3 separate regions of the Homo sapiens genome follow, and all the other regions are linked to region 1. Evidence: fine-mapped expression QTL. A gene starts in region 1. Each other region holds a variant in brackets. All regions are shown on one strand. Distances are between the middles of the regions.

The links.
Region 2: its variant is fine-mapped to the expression of TRAM2 in whole blood (TOPMed, PIP above 0.99). The same link has a PIP of 0.9 or more in T cells, blood mononuclear cells and testis.
Region 3: its variant is fine-mapped to the expression of TRAM2 in nasal epithelium (TOPMed, PIP above 0.99).

What each region holds. Positions count from the first base shown.
Region 1 is chr6:52,573,560-52,581,559 of GRCh38, forward strand. TRAM2 (translocation associated membrane protein 2) reads right to left here and starts at 3,501. Exons shown (of 11, transcript NM_012288.4): 1 at 3,237-3,501. The coding sequence starts at 3,356. It overlaps TRAM2-AS1 (TRAM2 antisense RNA 1), which reads left to right and starts at 3,643. Exons shown (of 3, transcript NR_103446.1): 1 at 3,643-4,834; 2 at 5,816-6,050. RefSeq lists enhancers at 1-305, 907-956 and silencers at 1,307-1,356, 3,214-4,073.
Region 2 is chr6:52,498,115-52,506,114 of GRCh38, forward strand. TRAM2 (translocation associated membrane protein 2) reads right to left here. Exons shown (of 11, transcript NM_012288.4): 8 at 7,918-8,000; 9 at 7,485-7,628; 10 at 6,477-6,640; 11 at 1-5,156. The coding sequence ends at 5,083. Among named protein-coding and RNA genes, the nearest start is that of TRAM2, 75 kb to the right of the region's middle. RefSeq lists enhancers at 985-1,034, 5,652-6,851. The variant G/A (reference allele first, on the strand shown) is at 4,205.
Region 3 is chr6:52,546,778-52,553,226 of GRCh38, forward strand. The region is part of intron 1 of TRAM2 (translocation associated membrane protein 2); the gene reads right to left. Among named protein-coding and RNA genes, the nearest start is that of TRAM2, 27 kb to the right of the region's middle. RefSeq lists an enhancer at 5,440-5,609. The variant G/A (reference allele first, on the strand shown) is at 1,897.

The DNA of each region.
Region 1 (8,000 bases):
AGCTGCCCCCTGCCTTCGAAACAGGATGGCTCAACACTAAACCAAAATTGGGGTAGCAATAGGGGTGAGTGGTGAGGGGAGAGACAGCCTTTCATATGTGTTCCCAAAAGGAAATTATCCCAAGGGAAAGAATTTAGAGTCATCATCTCCCTGGGGACAGAGAACTAAAGCCCTGGGGTCCCTAACGGGGAAACAGAAGCCCCCTGAATGCAGAAGAGGTGACCAGTGAGTGGGGGAAAGAGCAACGCAGGGATGCAATGCAGACACAAGGGCTGTGGCTGCCTGGCGCGTGGGCTGATGGGGGAGAGGGACCCAGCCCATTGGCAGAGGCACGACAGAGGTCCCCAGAAGGAGGAATGGCCAAGAGAGTCGCTCTTTGTGGGAAGAATTATAATTGAGTTTTCCTGGCTCAGCTTCCGAATGAAGGAATCCTAGCCAGGGCCAAGTCAGAACCCCAAAAGCCTATGTCCTCTCACCCCTTTCTCCCATTCCCCTTGCACCTCTTCCTGCCGTCACTTCTAGGAAAAGGGTGGTGAGTCCCCAGTTGCACCTACCATCGCACCATATGCATCCCTACATACCCACACATGCACACCACACACTTCCAGAGAGAAACCCAGAAGATCCTAAGTGATATCCAGCCAGTCCTGTGCTTGGTTATGAGGCGTCTCCCCAGGCTTTACTCTGAGTGTGAAGATGCCCACATTTGTTTCTCTGTGGTACCTACAGTATCCAGGACGCTTCTGCTCTCATTTGATAGAGGCAGCAGTTCCAAACTCCCCCTCCCCACCCCCAGGAATACTTATCTCTGTGGAGAGTTAGTTAGTCGGTGGGTAAAGACAGTGAGGCCCCCACCATGTGCCCAGCACAGAAGAACACAAGACCTTCTTACTGGAGGCTTAGGGCAAAGCCCTCTTTCTCCCAGAGAAGCACAGACTGATGATCTCACAAAGTACCTCCAAAAGAAGGAGACACCTGCCCTGTAGGTCCTGTAGGTTCAAGGTGCTATGGGAAGAAGTGATGGGCTTGGCAGGAAAAGGGGGCCTGTAGGCATTTCAACCAGGGGCCTTGCTACACTCCCCAATACAAGCCTAAGGGGGAGGAAGAGTAGTTTTGTTTGTTGTTTTTCTCGTCTTGGGCCTTTCTCTTTCACCAGATACTGGAAGTAACAGCTCTTAACACCTTTCAACTTTTAGAGTGGCAGGTTTAATGCACAGGACTTTCCATAAGACTAGAGACCCAGGGAAGGAGGTAGGTACCAAACTCAAATGCTGGCAGCCCTTTCTGAGCAAAGATAAAACAGGGAGGGCCACAAACCCTAACAAATGCTAGAAATATGACGGAGAGAGCCACAGGCTATGCGAGAAACTTCGTCGCTGCAGCCTGTGGCTTTGAGGTTTACAGCTGTCACGTGTATCTTTCCAGCCACACCCTCCAAGGCTGGGGACACGCACTTGGAGGCCTCTTAGAATGGAGGACAGCAAACAGACAGCAGAGAATGCGCTGGGCAAAGGAAATTCTGTTATTTTGTTAAGCTATTATTATGATAAATAATCACAGGGCTCCAGGCGCAAGAGACTTTTTCATGTTGGTAGGAGATGTTATGGCTTTTGTTGCTGATATGATCTCAGTTAAACCTTACAACCACCCTGTGACGAAGACCAGTTTTATGAACGTCTTTAATGATGGGGAAACTGAGGCTGCAGTCAGTTTTCAGTCAGACTAGTCACAGAACAGGGACTGAGACACACGGATATGACTCTGTGTGACACCACACACTTCCAGGGGAGAACCCAGAACAAGGTGGAGCAAGCCCGACCCAATATACCACTAGAGAGAGCTGTGAGAGGGAGAGGAAGGAGAGAGGGACTGAACTAAAGGAGCACTATCAAAAAGTGGAGTGGAGACCCCAGTCCTAGCACCACCGTTTATTTCCTACAGACCCTAAAGCTCAGCCACGGACACATTCATTCATCCAACCCTGACTTGGCCACCACAAGAACGTTCCCAGCTTGAGGGCAGCTTCGCCAGCCAATTAGGGCCCTTGTCATTCGTAGAGATACAGGGAACCCGAGACAGAGGGACAGGGAAGGAAATTTAGCCAGGCAAGCCATCCTCCATCTCCAAGGAAGTTTGTAAATGATCACAGCTTCCTAACCCAACCGTGAGAATGCAATAAGCAAGCTGACGCAGAAGGGAGGACAAGGAGTCTCAGGAACCAGAGGAGACCACGGTGAGAGTGAGGGGAATGTCGCTCACATATCTCACTTCTGAGACAAGATATACCGCAACAAACCCATGCCAAGCTTCCTCCAGTTCTTCCCACTTTTGAATATCACATTTTTCTTGCTCTGCAAGAGTAGGGAATCCTTCCCATCAGTCTTGTGAATTCTGACCCCTTGCTGGCTTTCTACAACTCCCTGCCTGGGAGGCCGACACCAGGACATTGCTGTTGGGGGTGGGATCCCCATCCTCTGCCCCCCACTCCTACACTATAAGAGAATCAACTTTCCCCAAAAAGTGGAGGGTATCCCTGTCTCTCTTCTTGTCTCTGTAAAGGGGGTGAAGCTCTGGGTCGCCGCAGATGGATCTAAAGGGACAGTTCACGGAGTGGTAAAGGATATCCAAAAATTGGCCTTCTAGAGCACAGCAAAAAAGTGGGAGCGAGACGAGAGCAGAAGGCCACTGCTGGGATGGGGCCAGGGCCACACGTGAACATCCGAGCACGTTCCAGAGCTGAGATGCAAAACACCCAGAAAATCACATAGGAAGTGGAAAAGGTTCTGGGTCTCTCCCACTGGAAAAGCCCAGAAGAGCTAGTGGCCACCCCTTGGGGCAAGAGGGGGTTGTGCAATGACTGCGGGTCTGGGAGTCTCTGGGCTTGGCTCCTGGACGCCAGAAAGGGAACCCCACGCGTCAAGCCATGGTGGCAGCGCGGCGGTTGGTTCGAGGCCAGGCTGGGGTTTCAGGGCTGCAGACAGAGCTGCAGGATACGATGAGTGCCCAAGGGGGCGGCAGAGCATGGCATGGCTGGCACGGCGCGGAGCTGGGGGTGCTGTCTGGGCTGGCCGGGGTACAGGCCGGAGGGGTACAGTGCACAAAGCCGGGGTGCAGATAACGTACACGGCAGCCAGGAGCCTCCGATCAGAGGAGGGCCCGCTGACCTGCAGGGGTGTGCCGGGCGGTGCACGACAGGGGGCACTGTCCCTCCAGCTCCCTCCTCCCCAGGCTCTCACCTCGAACATAAGCCCGATGAGGACGCAGAGCACCAGGCAGAAGCCGATGTCCGCATGGTTGTGGATGACGAACTCCTGGCTGAAGAGCGGGTAACTTTTCGTCCTCCTGCGGAAAGCCATGGCAGCGGGCGCGCAGCGGCCGGCGGGGCCCGCACCCTGCGCTCACGAACCGCAGCGCAAACTTCTCCAGCACCGGCCCGGTCCGCCCGCCGGCCCGCCGCCCGCTCTCCCACAGCCGCTCGCCCGCCCAGCGCGGAACAACTTCGGGGCCCGCCCCCTTCCTCCGCCCGCCCCCGGCCGCCCGTAACCGCCCCCGGCCGCAGCCCCCGCCCAGCCCCCGCCCAGCCCGCGGCCCGCACTCGGCGCGCCTGGCCCCGCCCCCCGCGGGCTTAACCCTCTAGCCGCTGGGCACGCGCGGGCTACCGGGGCGGAGGCGTACGGGGGCGGCGAGCGGGGCTCGGCTCCTCCTCGTCCCGCGCCAGCGCCGCGCCCGGCCGCATTCTCGGGGCCCGAGGCTCAGCCGCTCGCGGTGGAGAAAGCAGGCCGCGGAGGAGGCGGGCGCCCAGGCCTGCCCGGACAGGAAGTGGGCCCAGCTTTCCCACTCCTCGCTCCGCTCCTTCCTCCGCGGGAAGGGCAGGCCCCGGAGGCAGCGAGCGCCCCGGGGGTGGCCGGGCAGCCGGATGCTCCCGGGGTTGCGGGCTGTGGCCCCGGGGGCTGAGGGCGGCGCGGGTGCGGCGGAAGCAGGGAAGCCGCGAACCGGCCTTCTGGCTGGCCACAGCGCCCTGCACGGACGATCAGTGAATGGAGATTACTCAAGTATTTATCGAGAACTTGCAGTGGGCTAGGCACAGTTCAGGTAGATCAACAAACCGAAAGACCCTGCCCTAGGGGAGCTTTCGCTCCAATGCGGGGAGAGGGTGGATGATTGCAGTTTTGCCCAGTAATTTTTGGGACCCTCATGCCACCATTAATTAGCTACACACATTTCACCGAAAGTCTACCTTACATATTAATCAGAAGAAGTGGAAGAATAAACACAGAAGAAGCAAAAAAGGAAGGAACTTTCTCACTGAAAGTTTCTATTTAATATTAAGTCTTAAAAGTACTCCTGGAAGGACAAAAGGTGTTCTTAATAAATTATATTCGCAAATATTGGATTTAATCCTACCAGTAATGAAGCAGTCAGTTACTTTCTAGATGTGCAGAAATACGTAATGAACAAAAAAAACTAATTCCTATTCCATTTTTTATTAGGTCCACAGTTATTTCACTTCTAAATAAATATGGTTTTTTAAAAGTGGCACGCGGTGGAATGTAATTGAGACAGGATGGAGTTCCTAGAGAAATTTTACTTCCTCAATCTGCACTCCACCTTACTTAAAATACAGTCTTGGGTCTGTAATTCCCTTATCTGACTCTCAAGGAAATGACAAAGTAATGCCTAGATTGGACTAAACCTCATTTAACTTCAAGGCTGACCTTTCTCAAAGTTGAACCTTCGTCTTGTGAGGAACAGAAAGATCAAGAACTCTGAAGCACCTCGACTTTCCACCTGTGAAGATGTGTTCAAATTTGCAACGTGCGGCCACACCTATGAGGTTGAACTTTATACAATTGGTTTCTTTATAGGTTTAGATGGTTGAATTTAAGTTACCCCCACTGCTATTATTATTATTTTGAGACAGAGTCTTAACTCTGTTGCCCAGGCAGGAGTGCAGTGGCGAGATCTGGACTCACTGCAACCTCTGCCTCCTGGCTTCAAGCAATTCTCATGCTTCAGCCTGTAGCTGGAACTACAGGTATGTGCCACCACACCTGGCTAATTTTCGTATTTTTTAGTAGAGGTGGGGGTTTCACCATGTTGACCAGGCTGGTCTCGAACTCCTGACCGCAAGTGATCCGCCATTTTTTGAGACGGATTCTCTGTTGCCCAAGCTGGAGTGCAGTGACGCCATCTCGGCTCACTGGAACCTCCTCCTTCCAGGTTCAAGCAATTCTCCTGCCTCAGCCTCCTGAGTAGCTGAGATTACAGGTGCCCTCCACCCCCTGCTAATTTTTGTATTTTTAGTAGAGACAGGGTTTCACCATGTTGGCCAGGCTAGTGTTGAACTCCTGATCTTCAGTGATCCACCCGTCTTGGCCTCCCAAAGTGCTGAGATTACAGGCCACTGCACCCAGCCTTTTGCTACACATTTATACTAAACTATATTATGGGGCAGCACAGTAGGTTTGTTTACACCAGCATCACCAGAAACACGTGGTTAATGCATTGCGCTACAATGTTACAGTGGCTACGACATCACTATGTGATAGGAAATTTTCAGCTCCATTAAGATCTTATGAAACAACTGTTTTATATGTTGTTTGACCTGAATATCATTACGTGGCATATGGGTATATGTCCTCCAGTTTTTCAACATTCCTTCCTTCAAAAAGAGGCAATTCGTTCCCCCACCTTGAGTGTGGGCTGGACTTAGTGGCTCACTCCTAATAAATAGAAGGTAGCATAAGTGATGGTATGTGACTTCCAAGACTAGGCCAGAAGAGGCATTTGAGGGTTTCTGCTTTCTTTCTCTCAGGTCACTCCCTCTGGAGGAAACCAGCTGCCACTTTGTGAGGATACTCATAGTCCTGTGGAGGCATATCCTCCATATGGCTGAGACCTCCTGCGAACAACCATCACTGACTTGCCAGACATGAGTGTGCCACCTTGGAAGCAGATTTTCCAGCCCCAGTTAAGCCTTCAGATGACATCAGCCCCTGCTAATCTCTTGACTACAACCTCATGAGAGACCCTGAGCCAGAACTAGCCAGGTAAGCCACTCCTGAATTCCTGACCCACTGCACCTGGGAGAGAATAAATATTTGCTGTTTTAAACCACTAAATTTTATTGTAATTTGTTATACAGCAAGAGATAGCTAATACACACTGCTAAAGCTTACAATCTTTTAGAATTGACTGAGACATCATTACAATTCAGTGTGATGATGGTGACTCTAAGAACAACCTGAAATATGCACACTCTGAGTACAAGGAAAAGGTAACCTAATTCTCTCTGGGGTGTAAGGGAGGAGGTCATTTGGGCTGGGCCTTTACCTGACAAATGGTACTGACAGAGAATGCAGAAAAGGAGTGATAGATGAATTTGGAGAGTTAAGATAGAACTGGATTGTGGCAGGTTTTGTATGCTGTGATAAAGAATTGTGACTTTATTCTGCAAACAATGGGAAGGAATGGAAAGTTGGTGTTTTTTGTTTATTTGTTTTTGAGATGGAGTTTCCCTCTTGTTGCCCAGGCTGGAGTGCAATGGCACCATCTCAGCTCACTGCAACCTCCACCTCCCGGGTTCAAGAGATTCTCCTGCCTCAGTCTCCCAAGTAGCTGGGATTACAGGCATGTGCCACCATGCCCAACTAATTTTGTATTTTTAGTAGAGACAGGGTTTCTCCATGTTGGTCAGGCTTGTCTTGAACTCCCAACTTCAGGTGATCCACCCACCTCAGCCTCCCAAAGTTCTGGGATTACAGGCGTGAGCCACTGTGCCTGGCAAGAAATGGAAAGCTTTTAAGCATGACCAGATCTGTCTTTAGAGGAGAACTATCAGGAGTATGGAAGACCATCCTGATTTAAACAGGAAGACCACTTTGGAAACTATTATAACAGTCCAGTAAAGAAATGGACACTTCTCTCTTCTTTTTGAGACAGGGTCTCTGTCACCCAGGCTGGAATGCAATGGTGCAATCACAGCTCACTGCAGCCCCAACCTCCTGGGCTTAAGTGATCTTCTTGCCTCAGCTTCCGAGTAGCTGCGACTACAAGCACACACCACCATGCCTGGCTAATTTATTTCTATTTTTTGTAGAGACAGGGTCTCCCTCTGTTGCCCAGACTGGTCTCGAACTCCTAGGCTCAAGTGATCCTCCTGCCTCTACCTCCCAAAGTACTAGGATTATAGGCATGATCCACTGCGTCTGGCTAGCACTCCTCAAAGAACAGTAGCAGTAAGAATAAAAGGGAGTTGAATGAGTCAGAACTTGCATCTGGGATAACATAAATGATGGTGGGACCATTAAAAAATTTATTTGGAATAACAGATAAAGAGCATGTTTAAGGGAGGAGAAGAAGATGGCCTCTGCTTTGAACAAGCTGAGGTTGAGGAGCCATGGAACACTTTGACAGCTCAGTTGGAAACTGTTGGATTGGACTTGGGGAGGGAAAATCACAACTAAAGTATTTTCAGTTCATCTTCAGTAGGACTGTTGAGGTCATCAGGTTATATAAGTGTTCTGAGAGAATGAGAAAAAGTCTGAGGTCAGCAGAATCCTAGTGAACCCCGACACTCGGAATGGGGGAAGATGAGGAAAAGGAAAGCGTGGCGTAGAGGAAGCCACGACATAAGAATTTCGTTAAGGACAGGTTGAATCAGGCAGAACAAGAATGAGATGAAACTCCCAGATTCAGCCATCGTGGCTTTTAGAGACCACTTAATTGAACATTAGAGTGGGCTTAACAGTAGGTAGAAGTTGAGAAAAGGAGGTGGGTAAAAACGTCTGTTTGTAAAAAAATGTTTTGTGAGAAAAAGAGAAATGGATGGTGTTTTGAGGGCTATGGAAGATCTAAGGAAGGACCTTTAAATTATATTTAATTTTTGAGATTGGAGCATATTTGGAGACAGAGAGGAAAAACCCAGGAGAGAGGGAAATACTGAAAATACTTGAGCTACGGGAGATCAGTGATGAAACTGAGGAGGAGGCTAGAGGGTG
Region 2 (8,000 bases), 75 kb before region 1:
AGAATGACAACAAAAGGAAAGTGGCTATTTCTTGTGTAAGGGATGACGACTCCCCCTCCCATGGGTCCCATTTCTCCCCCAGTTGCAGGTGTTTTAAGGGACAGAAAGGCTGTGGAAAGGACCACTGGCTGGGAGAGTTATTGCACAACCCGGAAGAGTGAGAAAAACGTGGGCGGGCAAGGGGTAGGGGAGAGGGTTGCTGCGACTAAAACAAGGTAACACTGAATTAGGAGCTCGAACAGTTCTGCAACAGTCAGACATGTATGTGTTTATGTGTTAGCACTTGGAGACTGGGAAGTAAAAGTAAACACCTTTATCATATAAACTTTGGGCTGAATGGGAAGCAAAATAGACCAAAAGAGGTTACGGCAAGTGGGCCTTTTAAAAAAAATCTGGGGGTGGGGAAAATAACGGAGAAGGAGTTTGCTATGTGGGGCCAGAGGAGAGTTTTCGAAGTGGGGGCTGGAAGCTCTGGGCTTCTCTTAATAGGTATGCTTGTGGTTGGGCCACCTCACAGACTTCCACAGCCACCCAGCTGGGCCAGAAGAGAACTGACACAAGGGAGAAACCAAAAACAAAACAGAACACACCACAGACCCTAATCCTGGGCAGCGGGGTTAGAAACAAATGGGGTGAAACTGTCACAATCCGTGTCCCTTTTATATATAACTATACTGAGGTATGGTGTCCTTGGCTGCCGTCGAGCCCTGGCAACTGGGGGCTGGCCACGGAGTACAAGTTGAAAACCACACAGCAAAGTAAGGCACTTATTCTCACACACAGGCGCACGCACGCAATCTGCTTGGGACAAAAAGTCTACAGGGGTTGCCAAGCACGAAAGGCTACATGGAGACTGCAAATCCCAATGCTCGTCTTTATAGCTCTGCCACTCCAGGGAACTCCATAAAAGAATGAGGCAGCTTTCACTGGGGAGAACTGGTCTTCAGCCTTTGCAAGGTGGAGCTAACACTCATGTGAGTAGTGGGGTAGAGTGAGAAGTTGGTAAAGTCTTCCTCACTGGGACAACCTTGAGCTGGAGAGAGATCCTATTTAGGTTTTCCAGTCATCTGACAATGACCTAATCCTCCAATAATCCTGAAAATCCTCTCCTGAGAAAAGGAACCATAAGCTCGGAAGGCAGAGTGAGGGAGGAAGAGCACTCCATTGTCTTGACTCAAAAGCTTTCAGCACTCCCTCTGTTAGAGGAGAGAGCTTAGAACATCAAGAATTGAAGTTTGTGCACTTGTGCCATAGGCCCTTAAGCAAAAGAATTAGTTATGTGCAGACTTCCCTACCTCTCACACCAGGCCTAGAAAAACCAACTAGGAAGGCTGAAGCATACAAAGGAAACCCAAGCGAAGGCCTTTTCTAGGCACAAGGGGGTCGGCAACCCACTTCCAATTAAAGCATCCATGGAAGATAAGAATTTTGTTGTGGAATCCTGGGAGGAGATGCACTCTTTCACCCAACCTCTTATTAGCTGCTTAGAAAAAAGAAGGGGTACTGACAAAGGAGGTCCCAAAAGAGACCCCAGAAGCACACACCCACCCCAAGCTTCAGGGGTTCTTAGGGTCCCAGGGTTTCCGGTCAAGAGAAGGATCTGTGAACGTGGCCAGGGCAGAGGTGTCTATTGGGGTTTCTTAAATGTTGGGAAGTTATGCCTTGGGACATGAACAGACAAGTTTCTCAGCAACCATTTCGGTCTGGTGGCCCAGACACACATGGGATTAGAACTGACTCAAAAGGGAGGACAGCAGATCCCCCGCCGGCTCAGCCTGCTCCCCTCTCACCCAGAACCATCCCCTACCTTCAAAAGGAACACATGCAATTTATTAATAGTGCAGCTATCAGCGCCCGGATGGTAAAAATAACTCCCATCATCACTGCACCTCCAAGGAGGGGAGCGGGTAGCACAGATCCTTGGTCCACCAGCGCCACCTCCCTCTCCTCCTGCTGTGTCTGTTGGCTTCCCCACAAATGTAAGTTAGTTAGCCAGGGCTGTCGAGAGGCCACAGTTGCTGGGGTAGGTTTACGTCTTTTCTCCTGCTCTTGGTGCATGGTGCTGAGCTCTCAAGCTTGGAGGTGTCTGGCAGAGCCTTCACAAATGGCTTGGCACTTTGGGGCAGGAGAGAATGCATAAAACTGAAGAAAACAGCCAAAGTGGCCAAAATTAGAACAAGCTAGCCCAACACGCTCATAGGATGAAGTGGAATTATTTCAGCTCTGGCAACACAGTCTGTGTCAACCTGCCACAGACTTGGCTCTGCTGTGAAATAAACGTGCCAGGGAGGGTGGCAGGGGGAGGGGGGTGACAAAGTACCCTACAACTACCCTCTAACCACCCCCCCCAAACATCCCTGAAGCCCAGGCTGGCAAGATGCCAGCCCCACTCATGGTCTCAGGGTTTTTTTTTGTTTTTTTTTTTTTTTTTACATAAAATAAACCCTTAGCACACCCGTCCACTGGGAAGCAGAGCCTAAGCTGACCCCGGCCACTGGGCTGGTGGGACCACATCCAAGGCATGAAGTACTGGCAGCACGGGGAGCTTGCAAGAGACAGGGACATGAAGTTGTGGCGTCTCTGGCACGCAAGTGTCCTGGGACAGAGCAATGGAAACCTACAGGCATGAGAATGAGGGTTGCTTGATGGCAAGATTTCAGCTGCTCTGCTCACACTACCTCTCCAGCAACTGGCACAACGCAGGCACCTGGCACATCCCAGCATGCCATACATATCTGTTGAAGCCACAACTCAACAGTTTAACCTGGACTCACCTGAGAGAGGCCTCCTGCATGTGAAGCCCTGCCAATGACACAGCCTGGAGAGCACCTAGGATGGGTGTTCTCTAATGGGGGAGGAAGGTGGGCTTAGGAGGCTGCTGGCTGAACATGCGATTTGCAGTTATTAGGCAAGGTGGGGGGCCTGAACTCAATTATAGACTCTGTCAGGGCTGTTTGACTAAAGTGGCTAAGGGATCCCATATCAGGTCTGCTGTGTTGAAACCAAACTGCCCTTTTACCAACGTTTCTGCTGTGCAGCCCAGAGAAGTGTCAGGGAAGGAGAGGGAGAAATGGGGGAAATACATATTTTCAAAAACACTGTCTCACTTCCTAAGGGTAATCAAAAGCAACCACGGGTAGCTCTTCCCATTTCTGCAACCTTATCGTAGAGAGGGATGAAGGCCTCCAATGGCGTTAGGAAACAAATCCCTCAGTTACTGGGAAGCTAAAATTTATCTATGATGTAAGTGACTTGGAGAAGGGGAGTTGCCTTGATGAAAAGACCCATTTCCCCCCTTTTGAATCTAAATCCAAGGTTTGGTTTCTACTGTGATGTCAGAAAGATGACCAGTATTCCAAATGACACTACTATTCCTGCACCTACCAAGAACTACTCCCCTTTGCCTCAAAACAGAGTTCGGAGGTTCTTAATTGGGACTTTTGTTTTTTTAGACAGAATTTCGCTCTTGTTGTCCAGGCTGGAGTGCCATGGTACAATCTCCGCTCACTGCAACCTCCGCCTTCTAGGTTCAAGCGATTCTCCTGCCTCAGCCTCCCGAGTAGCTGGGATTACAGGTGCCTGCCACTACACCTAATTTTTTGTATTTTTAGTAGAGATGGGGTTTCACCATGTTGGCCAGGCTGGTCTTGAACTCCTAACCTCAGGTGATCTGCCCACCTCGACCTCCCAAAGTGCTGGGATAACAGGCGTAAGCTACTGCGTCCGGCCGTAATTAGGACCGGCTTTTTAAAGCTGAACGCCCCTTCTAAAAGTCCTCACAAGGCACCAAAAGGACTTGGAGGCCTTCTCTTCAGGTGGAGGGGAGGGGAAAGAATCTGTGAGGGAAGGGGCCAGAAAGGCGCCTATCATCTACCCAGAGAGTGACTCTCAGTCAGTCATGGTTTCATGCAGTCTAAAATGCTGTAGTTGTGCTCAAAAAACGACAATTCCAAAGAACACTCAACAAGGGCGGCCAGATGAACAGCGGTCCAAGTGACCCTCCCTGAACACCAAGGGACCAGCATGGGGCTGAAGCCCTTGAGACTTAGTGTTTCTGCAGCTAGAGATGAAGTCAAGGTAGTAAGTTTGGCCCCTGACGGGGCTGGCTGGCTCTGGAGGTGAGGACCAGCCTATCTCAGGCAGGTATATGAACTGCTGTTTGGTTTGGTTTTGAATGCTTGTGAATGGCTGAAAAAGCAATGGC[G/A]ACTGGGACTGCTGGAGAAAGGCCTAGGTCGACTCCACTGTGGGTTCTGCCACCATTACCTTTCTGGAGGTGCCTGCTGCGCAGTTTGCTCTGCTCTCGCTCTAAGCAGTGGGAAGACGTGTCCCCCCCCACAGAGCGACAGCAGGCTGGCTTCCAATCCGCGGCCAGCCACTGGTAGGAGCTCGAGTCACGGGACCCAACCGAGTTCACACCATCCTTCTGGATTGAGTTGTCACGTCCCAAAGCCAAATGCCTTGGCATTTACAACGAGCAGTGGCTGCTGTGCCTCAAGATGGTACATGCAGAACTGGAATCATATATCTCGTCAGTTAATCAGCACCAAGGAGATTATGATCCGAGATGGCCGCTCTCTTCTTGCCCATCCACATGAGGACCACCAAGGGCCTACCAGCCCCAGGCTTCTGACCGGCAGGCCCTGGGGGACCGAAGGACAGGACTGCAATCTTAGCTCCCCTCCCATTGTAAAAATCAGACAGAAAAATTGCAAGATAAGGTGAAAATAGGAAGTAAAAAGGAAAAGCAGCAGCCATAAGGCAAGAGACAGAGCAAGCAGAAAGGTGCCAGCCATGGGCGCCTGGCGTTCCAGAAAAGCCAGCACAGGACAGGAGTGAGGACAGGAGGTGGCCTGAGGGGGAGAAAGAGAAAGATTTTTGGCTTTATTGAGAATGGTTTGTGGAAGAATAAGAGGAAGCCAAGAAGAAGGAAAGCGAAACGCCCCCTCCCCCCATTGCAAGACAGGTTTCGGCTGTTTGAGACGGAGCATCACAGGCAGGAAGGAGGAGGCAGGGAGGGGGCCTGGGCTCCTTGCCCCCTGCTCGGCCCCCACCAAGAGGATTCCTGTTCTTAGCACTTTGGCCTTAGGGAGACTTGAGTTTCTTAGTCCGTGGGGAGGTTCCGTTCTCTGCCTTCACCACTCCATTTTCATGGTAACCTGGGAAGTGGAGAGAGACAAGCATACATGGTGTTTCTGCTGGAGCTAAGGCAGAAGAGGGGAGGGTGGGGCCAGGCCAAGGAAGGGGCCCGGGCAGCCCAGCTGCTATACATGGATGCACCAAAGGGGCGCCAGGCTGCAGCCTTGCACAGCAAATGCAAGCCAGCAGACGGCTCCCAGGAGGGTCCTGTCTTCCCCAGGGCCCTGGACTAGTGGCCCTGTTTGAGAGGCTTGGTCTCTGACTGCACTTTAGCAGGAGGGGCCTGGGATGACACACAGTAACTCAGCAACAACAGAGGCCAGCCTGCCCAAGCCTGAGGCTGGGGCTAGATACTCGCCGAAATCACTTAGATGCTGTCACTGCTCACTGTCCTCAGTTCTTCTCAGGCCCCTGCAAGGCATCAGCCCACTTCCAGTTCAGCAAGAACTCCCAGGAGCAGTGGCCACAGAAGGGAGGGGGACAAGAGGCTGTAGGAACAAGGCCTCAAGCAGGATGCCTGACACTCCTCTGGCAGAAAAATTGTGCTCTATTGTTCAAAATACCTCCGTGCGCTTGCTCAAATTCAGAGGTACTGGCTGCAGTCTTATGCCCCATACCTCCCCCGCCAGCCAGGCCTGACTCTGTGACACACCCAGCTGCGCGCGTGTCTGGTTCAAACACACATAAGCCTTTGCCAAGCAGGTGGCCACCTAGAGAAAAGCAGGTGAGTCAGAAAGCAGCGCCCAGTGCAGACAGGCCCCCAGGCTGGGCAGAACGTGCAGGGCTGGCAGGGCCTGAGGACCTGCTGAAGGTGGGTGATGACTGGAGTGCGTGCACGGGCCAAAGGATAAGTGTCCCACCCCTACCCCCCACCTAGCACTATGTCACTGTGAGTCATTCTTGGAGACAGAGGAGGAGCCAGCAAGCTGGGAGGCAGGGGCAGGCTAAGATGTGGAGCAAAAGGGCAGGTGAGGACAGAGGCCGCCGTCCGGCACTGAGAATGGGCGGCGGCGGCAGTAGCAGCACTTGGCTGGGGTCCAGAAGCCACCCTGAGGACACGCTTCCTGCCAGAGTTCCCCACCCAGCCACTGCCCTGCCCCGTGGTGGCCAGGGCTCCCAGCCTAGTTAGGGCCAGCCCCACCCACAGCCTGTCCCTGGCCCACACCCAGCCACGTGCCAATCAGGGAGCTAGGAGCCCCAGCCCTGAGGTAAGAGTCAGGAAGGAGAAGCTGGCAGGATTGGTCTGGGCAGCGCCCAAGAAGCCAGGTGCCTTGGCTCCTCCCACCCATCCCAGACAGACTTCCCTGGCTCCACTCTCTGCCAAGGGCCCTGGCACTCACCAGATTCCCTCTTGATGAGCCTGGCTGGTAGTCTGGGTGTGGCTGGGACTCTCCGCTTTGCACTCTGCTCATTCCAGTATTCCCGCCAGTGCCGCAGCTGGGAGTGGATGAAGCGCCACATGAGCCAGGCCTGGGCGGCACACACCAGCAGCAGCACGCAGAGCCTGCAGAGCAGGGGGTTAGGGGCTTAGGCTGGGGCTTGGGCTCACAGCCTTGGGCTGGGTTGTGCAGGGGAGAACAAGGGCCAGGGGCCCTGCAGTTCCCATGGCTTATCACGTCCGCCTTCACCACTGGCCCTCTTCGATACCACCACTATCACCAGGAAGAATGTGTGCTTCAGTCAGTCTCTGCTCCAGCATACATCACATGTGCCAGGGAGACGGGAAGGAAGTGGCGACAGACGTACGGCCAGCTCTACAATCACGCTACTCCTATGACGAGGGAGGGGTCCATGGCTGTGTCTGTTTTGCGCCCATTGCACAGAACAAGACTAATGTAAGCTCCACAAATATTGGTAGCATTCAAATGAACTGAATTTCTGGAAGAGTGGCTTCTCATTTAACATGTCACTTAAAAGTGGAGCAACCCTGGACAAATCACTCTCCTGGGCCTAGGGGCTCCGGAAAATAGTGGCTTCCTCACTGCCACAGGAGGCCACTGGCCAAGCCATTAAGCACATGGTTTTAAAGCACCCACACACAAGAAGAGGAGAATGATATCAACTGAGAGACTGGGTGTGATGCCTCTGTGCACCACAAAGTGCCAGACAAATGTAAGGGATTCCTATTTGGACTACAGTCTGAGCAAACCAGGACTAGGGGATGAAGATGGTTTGGATGGAACCAGAGGCTGCTATCTCTTCTCCCCTCAGGCCTGATATCCAGAGATTTCCAAAAAATAACAATATGTGGGAGACTAAAGGGTCTGCTGCCTCCAGACCTTCTGCAAGGGCTGTGCCAAGTTCAGGAGGCTCCCTGGCTTATCACCTTGGACTTCTGCTCGACTCACCTGCAAAACAAAGTGTTGAAGTTCCCTTTCTCGGGATCAAATGCCTGGTTTTCCATGCGAGCCAGTCCAAAGCCAATGGCCAGCACGGCAAGGGTGAGGATGAAGAGGCGGGTAACCCCAAAAACAGCAGCCCAGGCACTGAACCTGCTCACAGAGGCAGAAGAGGGATGTCAGTCTTTAGCGCCCTTGAAGGAATCTTCACCCACTTCTCCAGAAGAGACCCCGAGTGGGAAGAGGATTCAAGGGTGGCTGGGGAAAGTGCTTGAGGGACGAGATATCTAAAATCAGATGTTCCAGAAAAAAATAACGGGAGGGCACCACCTGCAGGTAAGCGGGCAGTGTGCAACCAGGGAGGGACCCTCCAACCATCCGGGCCTCGGGGGAACCCCTGCCCAGGCCTCTAAGCGGGCCAGCCTGCAGCAGACCCACTTACAGTTTCTCGTTGTTTTCATCTGCAAAGTAGAAGAGTCTAGCCGTGTGGAAGAGGAACTCAGTTGAGTACTGCAGCAGCAGCAA
Region 3 (6,449 bases), 28 kb before region 1:
AGGCAGGAGACCATTGTAAGGAGTCAGCTGCACACCTGCAGATGCCCCAGGGAGGACCAGTCAACTCAGGACTGAAATGTGAGCAGCCCGTGACCAGGTTTTTGTTTTGTTTTCTGATGGGTCCCAAGTGCCTACAACAGCGCTTGGCACATAGTGGGGATTAATAAATATTTATGTAATGAATGTGTGAAGTGTCCATCAGATTTGTAAACCAGAGGTCACTGGTAAATGCTGCCAAAGCTGGAGGAAAGGAGGGGCAGAGCTGGTGTGTATGGGTGAGCATGGAGTGGGAGTGTGGAGACAGAAGTGTGGACTGCTCGGTCTAGCAGCTCAACTCTGAAGGAAAGCAAAGAGCTCGGGAGCTAGAGAGGAGTGGACAGTCAGGGAGGTGCGGGAGAAGCTTAGACCACGTGTGGTGACAAGAAGGACCATGGAGAGAAATGTGGTTGGACATGCAGAAAAACAAGGGGGCCTAGAGAGGATGATCTCCTGGGAATTACACCAATCCAACGGGTATTTCTTCAGGAACTGAGATCCAGTGCTGCAGAGAGGGATGCCCAAGAGGGTGCACTGGGCCTGGGCAGCTTTTGTTAAGACCACGCCCTTTCTCAGTTCCCCAAGACCCCTGCTGCTTGTGCAGTTCGGACACCTTGTCTTGATACACACACCAGCTATGGAGAAGACGCTCAATAAACACCCCATGAATTAATGTACTTTCAGAGGAGCTAGAGGGGAGAGAGGCAAAAACAAAATGAACATCCTTCCTCCACTATATTCGCAAAGGGGCTGGGAAATTTTCTGCTATTTAATCAATTCTTTTGAACCGATGCTACACTGCCACTCTCAGCAGCTGTGACTTTACTTTCATTCATTTCTCTAGAGGGACAGGCAGGGCCACCTAGATGGATTTACAAGGGATGACTGTTCTGCACGTTCCCAGGGGGAGAACTGTCAGGGTGCCAAAGGGGTGGAGGGCCACGGGAGGCCTCCGGTCTCCTCTCAGCCTGTCAGCCTTTATTGCGTCGGCTGGACTGACAGAGTTCAGAATCAGAACCCACAGATATGCAGATAAGCACCTGGCCATGGGCCAGGATCCATATTCACACTCTACAGCCACAGTGACTGCTGCCATAACCATGGGGCAATTCCAGATCTGACAATGGCCACACAGGGTTTTCTAAACAGATATGTCATGGAAAGCATTAGAAGTATGGTGTGTTTGTGTGCTTATGTTCATGTGCACAAAGCTGGCTGGTAAGGCACTTTCACACCCTAGTAATATGTCTTTGTTTAGCACTGTCCCTACAAAACAAAATATAAACATTTTTAAAAATCAATTCTTCAATCACAAAATATTGAGCACATGCTCTGGGCAAGGCACAATGCTACTGGAGATGAAAGCAATTACGAGACCCGCTTCCTTCTCTCAAAGGCTCAGGACCAGAATCCAGAGTCAGGCTATACATCTATCTACTCCAACTCCATTATCACGAAGACGATAAAACCAACCACTCTTCTTTGAATATTTACTGCAAGCCAGGCAAGGTAAAGGCATTTTACACAATCACATCAAATAATCCTCAGCAACCCTGCAAGGAGCGACAATGACATCTAACGTGTGAGATCTTATGAAATGCCAGGCACTGTGCTAAACGCCAAACAGGATTACCTCATCTAACCTCCAACTCTATAAGGAACTGCTACATTACTACTATTCACTGAACTTCTATCACCTGCCAGGAACTGCTCTGAACACTTACAGAAATGATCTCACTTAATGCTCCCAGAGGCCCTAATGTGCAGAAAAGTGAGGCCCAAAAAGCTTAAGCAACACGCCCCAAGGCACACAGTTAATAAGCCCCAGAAGCGGGACTAGAATCCAAGATCCATCTGACC[G/A]TGACATCTGGACTGTTAATCACCATGCTACCTGAACGATGTGCCTAAGATCTAATGATCAAAATGAGACCTTGATGCATAAAGGGTTCATTTTAAGACAAGAGATGTCATAGATCAGGACAGCGTTAGGCAAAGGGCAAGTGGAAGCTCCTTTGCTTTCTCCAGGGCAAAGACCATGTCTTTATTTATCTCCATACCCACAGTGTTCTTGGCACAAAGGAGAGACCCAAAAAACATCTGTTAGTGCCCTGGGTTTGGAGATTTCTGGACCTTCTCTGAGAAGATTTCTGCGAGGCGGTGATTTGAGCCAGAAACATGTACAGAAAGTGGATAAAAGGGGGCAGGTGAGGGTTAGAACAGAATCATGATGGCACTGAGAAAGGACTGGAGAAGGCCTAGAGATACAATGGTTTAGCTTAGGATAGTCATAACGGCTTTACGGGGGCTGTCCACCGTGTGGTCCAACTTCAGATCTCAGCTGTGCCCATTTGTTTCAAATGAACTAGTCTAAAATGGAAGAAACGATATCTGGCCCTCAGACCCCTTAAAGCTTTCCTTCCCTTCCTTCCCTCCTTCCCTCCCTTCCCTCCTTCCCTCCCTCCCTCCCTTCCTTCCAAAAGCTGCCCAAAATCAACTGTCTGTCTCCTGAGTTCATCAGTGGGGATACCATCTATTCCAGCATGGTGCGCATTTCAAAGCTTTGCTTCCCACAATGATTCAAGCCAAGATAAAGAAATGATTGTCTCCCTCAAAGTATAAAGGAGGCAACATCGTAACATAAAATTTGAAAGTCTCTTCAGCCACAAAACTCTAAAAAACCATCTCATATTTCATAATTAAACAATTAAATTTCATCAGTTACCTAACAAATACGGGAGTCCAAGCTCCTGCATGTGAAACAGTCAAGAAAGCCATTTCCTGTTGGATACAGATACTCAAAGACTAGTAGTAATTAGACACGGTGATTAGAATTCCATTTATGCTGCACCAGAAACTCCTCTTGGTCCCTGAGGGCTAGGGTGCAAATCACTGGGGCAAGAGAAGGAAATGGGTTTAAGTGGTGCTTGAGTATTATCTGAACCAGCCAAAAGATGGAAGTGGAAGCATTTAATGCGCCATCACTTTAAGAAGCAATGGTGATTCTAAATCTCACCAGAAATCAGGGCAAGAGTAGCTTAAAGTTAGATGTGTTGCACTATTTGGCTTATTACAATCAGGAAACGTCTGTCCAAAAGTCCTATTCTCAGAGATGGTAGTATTTCAGGGACATCAGTTTAGCTTTGCCACCCTTTGATTGCCTGTTGTCATATATGAGGTAGGAGTCAAACAGAAGGCAGAATAGCATCTGTAAGTTCTACTGGGCTGCACAATGCTCCATCCTACCCTGTGTCCCAGAACAGACAGCTTCACCTTTATGGAGTACTTCAGTGGGCTTCCGATGGAATCTGCAGAACATGAGAGAGCATGAAAGGGGTATTCATCACCTGGCTCCTTTCCTGCTGGACAGTTCTGGCAGTCACTGCAACCCTCCACCAAAACTCCAGCCCCTCCCCTTCAACCACAGCTCTCAATGGTATTTCCTCTCTCCCTTCCTTCTTAGTTCTAGATCCATGCTATCCTCAGCCCCTTCAAGCTTAGGGATAGCTCCCCACGTTCGCAAGCCTTAGAATGCTTTACTGTTCCTTATCTGTTTCCCCTGAGCCAGTCCACGCCCTTGTTAATAGTGCCTACATAACCATTCCTCAATTACCCCACCTGTTTCCTGTTGGGACTCTGACTGATGGAGATATGCTACTCAAATAAAAGAATACTAACACCATATGATAATAATTAACCTCATCAACGTAACTGCTGGCAATGGGACACTATTTTTATTTTTTATTTTTATTTTTTTTGCGACAGGGTTTCACTCCCGTCATCCAGACTGGAGTGCAGTGGCAAGATCTTAGTTCACTGCAGCCTCTGCCTCCCAGGCTCACGTGATTCTCCTGCCTCAGCCTCCCGAATAGCTAGGATTACAGGAATGCACCACCACACCCGGCTAATTTTTGTACTTTTAGTAGAGATGGGGTTTCATCATGTTGGCCAGGCTGTTCTTGAACTCCTGGCCTCAAGAGATCCACCTGCCTTGGCCTCCCACCTGCCTTGGCCTCCCAAAGTGCTGGGATTACAGGAGTGTGCCACCATGCCCAACCGAATAGGACACTTTAAACCAGCAAAATTATCCTCCACACACATCCTGGTACTACCCCTCATGAAACGCATGGGAGGCAGACAAATCGCCACTCTTTATGGGCCATCTAATTTCCAAAGGACCAACAGTGTTGATAACCCACTTCAGAAATGGTTTTCTTTAGGCATGACACCCTGGGACTGGCTTCTCACAAACTCAGATCAAGATAAACCACTGTGGTGGACGAACAGTTTCCTGCCTGAGTTTTTCAAGGGGGCCTTTACTGAGGCAGGAGGAGGTGAATATAGGATTTTGAGGACACCACTGGCCTCAGGCTGCAGTGACAAATATGAGTCCTGGCTTCATGAACACTCGATCACATAGCTTTATTATTTTGGAAAAACATATCCGTTATGAATGGGGACTGGCTCTACACTAACCAATAATGTCTCCTAATTAATATCTGATCTGTTTCAGCCCGGAAGGCAAAGGATCTTTTACCTTTATGTGCTCAGAGTGCCACACAGGGTTGCTTGGATGTAGGGATTACGCTGCTAGTCCCTAGCCATTTACCTCCCTTTCACAAAGGGATTCTTTCTAACGTTTTCAGGATAGAGCAGCAACTGGAGTGAGGGTGGGCATGCAGGGGAGGGTGAATGAGGGAGGAGAGAAAGTCTGCAAACAAACGGGCCACTTATCTCCAGGAGTCTTTCTACCTTTTCCTACAGCTGAGTAGCTTGGGGGCAGGTTGTCTGCCAAGCTTCCCTGGCCCGTGTAAACACTCTGGCACCAGCTGGGGTTTGGAATCTGCTGAGTCTCTGCCAGCTGGCAACCTGGAGATGGGTCAGATTAAAGGAATGCATAATGAAGAAGTGGGTGGGAGACAGAGGCTGTATTTACACAGAGGGGGTCTGCAGGGGTCAGTACGGCGCTAGCCAAAGGGGCCTCTGGAAGTGGAAAAATAGGAAGGGAAGAGGAAGGGGTTTCAATGTGCCCAAGCACCATGCCCCACCCAACTGGCCCAAGACTGTTATGTTCATTTATTTTTTTCCTTTTAAAAACTGACTTCTTTGTCCCCTTCTCAGTCCCCCACAGCATCTCCCAAGCCAATTACACACAGCCCTTTGAAAGGTTTGCAGCTGGCCGCTCGAGAAGGCTCAGCGTGATCAGACAACACGGACACTTGATCTTCTGAGATCCCAATTTGGGAACGTTAACACGGAAACCCTAGCCACGTGCTGACAAGCAGGCCCTGGGCCACATTCTGCCCCAGACTGAGCCCTGGCAAGAGGAGAGGGCACAGATAGCCAGCAGTCTCAGGCAGCCATCCTGGCTTCCAGCCTTAAAGAGAGCGAGATTCCAGGCTCCTCCCCCATGCAAAGCCCAGGGGGCACGGATGCAGAGAGGACAGCCCTGGGACAGGACCAACAGGCTCCCCAGCCCTTTCACTACCCCGAGGAGGCAACGAAGACAAGAACAGACTGAAATCTGTTGGGTACTTGGTGGCCACACCTGCTAGGAAGGCCACCTGCAGCTCTACTGAAGCCCATGCAAATAGGTAAAGCTCAAATGGCTGTACATATATTACTAAGAGGAAGCAGAAGGGAGAAAAGTGCAGTGAGGAGGCAAGAGACCTGTTCCCTGACAGCTCAGCCACAAACCCGACGGGCTGCTTCCAGCTGCTCCCATCCACCTCACTGGGCCTCAGAGTTCTCATGTTTTAAGGGTGTTCTCTGAAGTCCCTTTGTATCCACGGATTCTTCCCCATGCTTCTGTGACACGGCTTCACTTCCAGGCTCCCAGTGCAAGCCTCAGCTCTTCTTGCTTTCTTGGAAATCTCTGCTGTAGCAGCCACTTCTATTCCGGCGACACTCAGATCTACTTTTCCTGCTGAAATCTTTCTCCCCAGGATGGGAGGTGGGAGGCTGCATCTTTACCTACATAGTGCATGATTAACTCCCGTTCAACATGCCAAACCTGGTGCCCAGGAGAAAGCTCTATACTTGCCTATGTCCCAGGCTGCAGTCAAAGACTCCCCACCTTTCCTTATAGCCCCTTGTTGGCTTTTTCCTTTACTATTTTATTAAATCCATCATTTCTACTCCCAATGCTGCTAAGAGCTTCATATTCTCATTTGCCACCAGCCTGTAGGAGAGACTTCTAACTGGATCCTCAGCCTCAAGACTCAAAACCCCTTCCTCCCCTCCCACTATCCATAGCTAGAATAGCCAGGCATATACACACAAACATACACGCACACACCACAGCCCCTCCATTGCCTTCTGCTGCTTAAAGGATAATGTCTAACTCTTTAATCTGGCATTCCTAATCCTCCCTGCCTCTCCACATTTGATTATCACAACTTTCCAAACTAATATGA